2 separate regions of the Homo sapiens genome follow, and region 2 is linked to region 1. The links come from fine-mapping of genetic effects on gene expression. A gene starts in region 1. The other region holds a variant in brackets. All regions are shown on one strand. Distances are between the middles of the regions.

Region 1 (4,399 bases):
CATCCTGCGGCCTCACCCAGAGGTGGACTCAGAACTAAGGACCATTTTCCAAAACCTTATGACTTCTTCCCCAACCAGTCAACATTTGCCATTCCCGTGTACCCTGCCCACCAAACTATCCTTGAAAACTCCTAATCTCCAAGACTTTGGAGTGATTGATTTGAGTAATAACTCTGTCTCCCACCTGGCGTGGCCAGTCTCACATCAATTAAACTTTCTTTACTGCAATGCCGTAGTCTCAGTGGATTGATTTTGTCTGGGCAGTGGGCAGGAAGAACTTGTCAGGCAATTACAGACCTTCCAACCTGAAGGGTGAGGGGACAGCCTTCTGGGGCTGATAGAAATGTCTTACTCTTCTCCTTCTGTTATGGGCTGAATTTTCTCTCCCCCACCACCAAATTCATATGTTGAAGTCCTAACCCACAGGACCTCAGAATGTGACTGTATTTAGAGACAGGGCCTTTAAAGAGGTCATTAAGGGAAGCTGAGGTCATATAGGTGGGCCCTAATCCAATCTGACTGGAGTCCTTAAAAGATGAGGACATTTGGACAAACAAGAAGACACCAGTGCTCATGCACACAGGAAAGGCCATGAGAGGACACAGAGAGAAGATGGCCATCTGCATGCCAGGGAGCGAGGGTGCAGAAGCAGCAAACTCTGCCAACACCTTGATCTTAAAATTCCAGCCTCCAGAACTGTGAGACAATCAATTTCTCTTGTTTAAGTCACCTAGTCTATGGTATTCAGGGTTTTTTTGGTTTGTTTTTGTTTTTTGGTGTATTTTTGGTTTGTTTGTTTTAAGACAGAGTCTTGCTCTGTCGCCAAGGCTGGAGTGCGGTGGCACAATCACGGCTCACTGCAACCTCTGCCTCCCGGGTTTGAGTGAGTCTCCTGCCTCAGCCTCCCGAGTAGTTGGGATTACAGGCATGTGCCACCATGCCCAGCTAATATTTGTATTTTTAGTACAGATGGGGTTTTGCCATGTTGCCCAGACTGGTCTCGAACTCCCAGTCTCAAGGCATACACCCACCTTGGCCTCCCAAAGTGCTGGGATTATAGGCGTGAGCCACCACGCCTGGCCCAGTCTGTGGCATTTGTTATGACAGCCCAAGCAAAGCAACACACACCTTCCCAGCCTTCATTTCTCATTGGCATGATGCCTCCTCTTGGCCTGCTGCTGATTCCATCCTAATGCCAGACCAACAAGGCTCTGCTCACCCAGCTCTGAGCCTTACCCCAGTGCTGGCTTTGCTCTGCTCTTCCTGATCCTCTGATCTCCTTCTAGTCCTGCCCCAGGGCAACTCCACATCTGGCTATTCCTGGCTCTTACTCTTCTTTTTACCTCAACCCAGACCAGCAGCTCACCAAGCCACCAAGACTCATGGTTCCTCCTGTATGCAGCCCTTGTCTGACAGGCCACGTGGTATTGATCACTTGTGGGGTCAGAGAAAGTGGGAGGAAGTTTGAAGCATTTTAGAGGATGGCAAGAGACGGAGGCCCTTCTCCTTTTTCTCTCATTATCCCCTCCAAGAACTTCCCACAGGTTGATAAATATTGCTATGGTCCAAAACAGAAGGTGCAATTTGGCTCTATTCTCAGATTTTCCTCCTATGGGTTAGTAAAACAGATGGAAGGCTGTCCAAGTCCAAGAGAGAGCCAGACTCATTCAGAGTGATCTTTTCAATGCTCGAAAACCTGGCACAGCGCTGTCTTTACTAATTCTCACCCTGAGAGGAGACCAAAGGACTCATTGGGATAGAGGCCATGTGAGAGTGGGGATGTTAAACCAACAGCTCCCCTAGGTTGAGGCAGGTTTAGGGGTCTGCTTTGTGCACACAGACCCTATTAATATCTTATGACCCACTTGGGATTATTTGGGTGGAATTGTTTGAAGAGGAGAAAAATTCTCTTTGCTTCCTATTAAGATGCCACCAGATGATCCCCTGGCAGAGTTCTTTGGCTCCTTTCTCACAATAATGAAAAAATTATATATACACCTTATTTCCTTTTTAAAGACACTAGATATTGGGATGCCAAGGCTCAGATTGGACTGCGTGCTAAATCTCAAAATTTTCAGACAGTTTAATCTGCATAAAGACAAACAGTTTGGACTCACCTCAATGCACATCTGATCCCAGGAGGTGATGACTTTACAGCCGGCAGAAAACAGCACCACCCAAAAGAAGCAGCTGACGTCAAACGCCATCACAGGCTAGGATTGCTTGGTGGGTTTACCTAATGCTTGGAGCTGAGAAATGGAATCAAACTGTGAAGGCCCTGGCAATTTGGCAGCCAGAGAGGTACTCAGAAGGGTGATCTTGGAACAAGAAATGCTGTTGACTGCTCAGCATTCTGTGGCTCTGTGCTGGAAAAAAAAAAAAAAAAAAAAAAGGAAGTCCCTTTTGCATACCACCCATCTTTGCCAAAAATAACTGAGGACCCAACCCCAGAATGGCCCGTTGCATTTCCTGGCACTGAACATGAATCAGTTGTGCAGTCCTTTTGGGCTGATCACACAGACTCTCATTGTGATGGTTCCAATTGACTTTATGCCAACTTCAAGCATTTGGCCAACTCCAACAGCTTCTGGTCCTTTTCCCCGAGAGAGGCTGTGGAAGCTCTACTCACCAAGGAGGCCACTTTCTTAGTTGTCCTAGGTGAGTGAATAGAAGAGGTGTCAGAGAACATGGAAGGGCAGAGCACTCTGCAGGGGCAGACTGAAGAACTGAGCCCTTCAGTGGCACCTGCTGAGCTGGGAACTGGAGCAGGAGGGAGCAGGCTTGAGAGTGTATCTGCTCCTTGAGCCTCAGCTGCTGCCTTGGCCACCTTGTCCATCCCCACCTCTGGTCTTCGTATAGGGGGAAGATTACTTCATCTCTTGACCTGGCGGTTCAGGCTTGTTAAAGCAGTTGGGGTGGACTCTCTTGTTCCCTCCTAACCTGGCCTGGGGAAGTAGGGGACACTGCCATAGATAGAGCAGCCTGGCTAAAGGAGAGTAGAGTTAGGGATGCCAGCCTTGGCTCTATTTCTTCTTAGAAATAGCTTTGAAGCAGGATTACAATTACCCTTATTATGGAGCAAGATGTGGCAATGATTAAAGAAAGCCAAAGTTCAAACATTCCTCAATAGGCTGCATTTAGCTACCTGTTCTGTCTGTTCTTCAACCCTCTGGCATACAGGATATATTTGGTGTTACTGTTCTCCCACTCCATTTCCAAGAGCCCAGTTCTTAGTATCAGAGTTCACAATGACTTAACTACTGCTACTACTACTACTACCACCACCACCACCACCACCACCTCTACAGTATTACTATGATGAATCAAATGACTATAGTATCTGCCATTTATTGAGTCCTTACTATGTGTCAGACACTGGGTCAGGTTTAATGCAGTTTTTTGCTGCATTTTCCTATCCTCGAATATTTCCATATATTCTATAAGAGAGATATTATTATTTCCCTCATTTTATAGATGTAGAAACTGATGCTTAAGAGAAATTAAATGATCTCTCCAAGCCACACAATTAGAGAGTGGTAGATTAGGGCTTCAGATCCAGAAAATCTCACTGCAGAGACTATGCTGCTACTCTTCACAGTTTAAGAAAGGACTTTGCCTCCTGAAGGAGCTGAAGAGTAGATGGGGCGAAGAATGTTGTTCATCTGGAGATTTCAGAAAAGATGCTAAAAAGCAGAGGGGATTGGAGGAAATATGTACTTGGCAGTCTGCTAGGCCTGCTACACATATTTGGGCTTTTCCTGGTCACCCTTAAAATGCCATCTTCATCAACAAAATCATCTCTGAAGATGCTATCAGCAAGACACAGTCTAAGCAAACCCAGACCAATGACGGACCACCTTGCTTCAAATAAGACATCCATCAGTGTATATTAGGAAGAGCTGAGAACTGGGAAGAGTCTAGTGGTAGACCGCAGATCCTTGCTTACCAACTGAGTGACCTTGGGCAAGTCATTTCACTTCTCTAAGTCCGTTTTCCCATCTGAAAAACAAGAATTATAATTCCTCTTCTGCCTACATCACAGAGTAATTATGAGGATCAAATAGGATCATGTATGTGAAAATGCTTTTCTTATCTTAAAGTCCCACATAAATATGCAGAATGTGAGGCAAAGACTGAGTAACGAATTCCAATGTCGTGTAAATATCACTCTCAGGAAATTGTCTCCTGCCCCAGAGATGTTGAAAGGCATATTACTTTCCTTCTTAAAGAAAGGTCTGATGGCTCAGTTAAGGCCATCAGATTTTGTCATTTTCTTAAGCTATATCATTTGCATATGATTTACATGTGTTTGCATAATGAATTCAAAAGACTCACTGCAAGTATATAAGAGTAAAATAAAATGAATGAATATGAGTGACCTTCTGCCACGGTATTCAAA
Region 2 (4,399 bases), 21 kb before region 1:
AAGGACTATAAATCATGCTGCTATAAAGACACATGCACACGTATGTTTATTGTGGCATTATTCACAATAGCAAAGACTTGGAACCAACCCAAATGCCCAACAATGATAGACTGGATTAAGAAAATGTGGCATATATACACCATGGAATACTATGCAGCCATAAAAAAGGATGAGTTCATGTCCTTTGTAGGGACATGGATGAAATTGGAAATCATCATTCTCAGTAAACTATCGCAAGAACAAAAAACCAAACACCACATATTCTCACTGATAGGTGGGAATTGAACAATGAGAACACATGGACACAGGAAGGGGAACATCACACTCTGGGGCCTGTTGTGGGGTAGGGGGAGGGGGGAGGGATAGCATTGGGAGATATACCTAATGCTAGATGACGAGTTAGTGGGTGCAGCGCACCAGCATGGCACATGTATACATATGTAACTAACCTGCACATTGTGCACATGTACCCTAAAACTTTAATAATAAAAAAAAAATTACAAGTTCTGCCTTTTGGAGGTGGCATGATGTGGGGACATGGGGCAAGACTATCAAGAGGACCAGAGAATTCATGAACTAGAGATAGGAATTAAAGTAGGGAGAAATCACTTCTAAAAATAGTACTAACCCTCCCACAGGGGGCAATGGCAGCTTCCCTTGGCTGTTGAGCACTGAACTGCCAAGCATTTACAAGAAGAAAAGGGGTTGGCTTGAAGACTTCAGGTGAGGCAGCACATCTCAGCTCTAACATGCACATGATTCATGTGGGATCTTGCTAATTCTGGTTCAGAAGGCCTATGATAGCGCAGAAAATTCTAACAAGCTCTTCTCAAATGACTCAGATGCTGCCTGCCTGTTGACCACATGAATGCCCTGCCTGGCCACACCAGGGAGTTAGAATCTCTGAAGATTGGGCCTAGGCATCTATAATTAAAAAATAATAAAATAACTTCCACAGGTGATTCTAATGTGCATGCAAGGTTGAAAAGCAAAAACAAATTTCCCAGGTAGAGGATGATACTTGACTCATTCTACCTCAACATGAAATCATCATGAACAGAACTTGAAGACATTTCCCATATAACTGCTGGTCCAGTTGAGCCCTAAGGACCCTTTCCACTCAAAGTGTGGTCCTCAGACCAGCAACATCTGCATCACCTGGGAGTGTGTTAGGAATGCAGAATCTCAGTCCCCTGACCCCCTGCCTTCCCCATCCCTGGACCTGCTGATTTTCTGCATTTCCATGATAGCCAAGTAATTTGCTTGCCCTTCAAAATTTGAGAAGCATTGTTATCACTACTCCCCAAGCTTCCTAGAAGATGAGAATTACTTGGAATATTTGTTAAAAATACAAGTTTCTAGACCTCATCGCTGATCCACTCACGCAAAAATCTCTAGGACAAGGCCTGAGAAACTGGGTTTATAATCAGTGGACATGAGGGGCAGGTGATTCTTATCTGGGAGGCATGGGCAATAGTAATATAAGAGTATATTTACCATCCGTGCTCAAATTTGTCTCCAGCTAAAGTCTACTACGATGATTATTGGTGTTTTTTAAGCCCTTGGGCATAGAAAACTCAAAAACCATTGAAACCATCAGGAAGACAGCAACCTAAACACTTATTGTCCACCTACTGTGTGTATGTGTGTGTGTATACATATATACCTACTCAGTACTAAGCATGTGTGTATACACGCACACATGTATGTGCTTAGTACTGAGCAAGAAGCTTTTCATCTGCCCTCTGACTTAAACATCAACACAATTCTCAAACCCGGTGGTGCCATTCCCATTTTATAGATGAGAAATCAGGCCCAGCCAGGCTATGTCGTTTGCTTAA[C/T]ATACACCCTGGAAAGAGAGCTTGGATTAGAATCTGAATTTTTCTGGTTCTGAAGCGCTTGACCTTTCTCAGTATTACCAGGTGTCATGTAATTGAATTCAGATTCAGGCCCCTCTCTGAATAATCTAAGCTATCTTATTTCCTCTTTGCATGTAGAAAAATCATATGGTGCTAAATTATGAATTTGATGATTGGTGGGAAACCGTTAAGTGAAGGAAGCTAATCGTTCTCTGTAATAGGGCCTCTTTATCAGTTCTAATTAATCAGTAGACAATTTCTCATCTAGCATTTTCGGTTCACAACACAAATGTAACATGAAAACGTGTAGCTATAGTAACTACAGAAATTTGCTTCCTTCATTCTAGGCCAGGCTTTAAGAAAATCTATGGTAGGGCAGTTCTCTAAATTTCATTTCCCTCCTGCCAGGATGTTTTTATTCCTCAAAGCAATCATTTTGTGTTATTCCTCTCTTTCTCTACCCCCTACATGTCTCATATATCTAGAAAATTTGGAAATGACCAAGGCTTTGCCAAACCTTGGTTTGATTACGTTTTGTATGCTGAAAGCCAATCAGCCTGACCCATGATGAAGTTCTCTGGCAGTTGAGACACCTCAGACCCTGCACTGGAGTCATTAGCACTATTCCTTATAGGAAAACACTCAGCAACATCTCACTGATTTCTGTGACCCAGCATTTCAAAAGACAAGATCACTATCTCTTACAACATCACTGGCTGATGTTGGGGCTGTCAATTCCAATACTTGTAGGCAGGCAAGCACTTGAAAAAGGGGATGGGTCCCAAGAGTGAAGTTCTCTGTACACTCTGTGACATGCCAGTTTAGTATGTCCAGACATGGGAAAAAGATCTGTTGCATATGGTTACAGGTTATCACCCCACACAGCTTGACGAAATGTCTATTGCTCTTGTAAAGCTGAAAGCCTCTAACAAATAGTCATCTGCCATTTCATTAAGCGCTGCCAGGAGATGGCTGTCAACATCTGGGAAAGGAAGAATGAAAAGATGTTTGCAAGGCCTGCAGCAAGCATGTTGCAGCTACAAAGTCTGCATATGTCAGGCTGGCATCACCATATCCTCCAGCCTTAACCTGTCTAAATAAAAATCATTTGCCTTAAAGTTCTGTCCTTTTGGAATACGTATGCTGTGTTAAACAGTGCTGTACTGAAGTAATTTTCCTGAGTTGGAGACATATCTACTCCTGTTGGGGCTGGAGGCAGTTCTGTGGACACCCCATGTAATGCATGTCCTACTGCCCCATTCAAATGGGGATCCTTAGAACAGCTATGGCTCCCTCTGTTCCCTCAAAGCTTGGGCTTTACCATTTGCATTTGAAAACACAAAGACTTAGAAAAACACTGCCTCCTTTTCAGTACCTGTACATTCTCACAACCGATGATCTCTGTTTTTTATCTTTTTAAAAGCAAAAGTCTTCCTTAAAAAATAATTCCTTTTTCTCCTTATTGCCCAGACCTGGTCATTGAAGCCATGTTGGAAATATAGATGAGAAGAAAGTATTTGAATCCCTGAAATCCTACCAGCCACTCTGTTTCTTTAACTTATAGGTATTTTTTTGTTTTGCTGAATAATGAATTAACAGTGGGCATGCTCTTTAGCCCACTCTTCTGCTCTTCCACTTGTGTCACCAAAACACCAGGGGTTTGGTCTAGGTCCTGCTGCTCACTGCACAAAAAGCAAACCACTGAGATGACAGGTGTCACCAAGGAAGAAGGCTTTAATTGAGTGATGCAGCAGAGCAGAAGAAAGCTCAGTCTCAAATCCATCTCCCTGACCAACTAAAACCAAGGGTTTATATAGCACACAAAAAAATGTAACAATGTGTAAGAAAACAGGAACTTGGGAGGGGCAAGGAAGCAATCATAGTGAATGAGGGGTGGGGCATCTGGTGTGGCAATCTGGTTTCAGTTCTTTGATACTTTTTGTGAGAGGCCTGAAGGTCATTTCCTGAGAAAGGAACTCAGATAAAACAGATATGTTTCAAGCTTTTACAGCAGAAGGGTCCATATTTATGTTTATCCAAAAGCAACTGTCTATGAAACTCTTGGGCCAGTGTCACTTGAATATTAAAACAAATATATTTCAATGTTTATAAGCAAACTTCTGCAATATGTATAATGGCTGCATGGTGTCTCATTATACCTTTGAGCCATACCACTTTATTTCCTGTGGTATGCCTTTCTTTCAATAAATGTGTTTCCTTTCTTTCAATAAATCTGTTAGAGAGCCTCAGGTGCAGACCATGGAGGCCATCTTACTCTTCTGTTCCTGGCACATCAACCTTGGCCTATTCTAAGGTTCATTTAATTATCCCAACAGCCCCTTCCATTCTCCACCACCACCCCATAAGCAATTATGTTAATGGTTTATCTTTTTGCTTTTGTTCCTGCAAAATGTATGTATCATTGTTTTCATGCATGCTTGTTTAAGTTACATGGATGACCATGTTAACATATTATTTTATTGGCTGGGTACAGTGGCTCACGCCTGTAATCCCAACAATTTGGGAGGATGAAGTGGGTA

What was found. PIP is the estimated chance that this variant, and not a neighbour inherited with it, causes the effect. A credible set is the group of variants that fine-mapping cannot tell apart.
Region 2: its variant is the best candidate, but not a certain one, in a credible set for the expression of CD180 in whole blood (INTERVAL, PIP 0.76).

Annotation. Positions count from the first base shown.
Region 1 is chr5:67,194,435-67,198,833 of GRCh38, forward strand. CD180 (CD180 molecule) reads right to left here and starts at 2,365. Exons shown (of 3, transcript NM_005582.3): 1 at 2,118-2,365. The coding sequence starts at 2,207. RefSeq lists an enhancer at 1,189-1,338.
Region 2 is chr5:67,173,379-67,177,777 of GRCh38, forward strand. No RefSeq gene overlaps it. Among named protein-coding and RNA genes, the nearest start is that of CD180, 21 kb to the right of the region's middle. The variant C/T (reference allele first, on the strand shown) is at 1,842.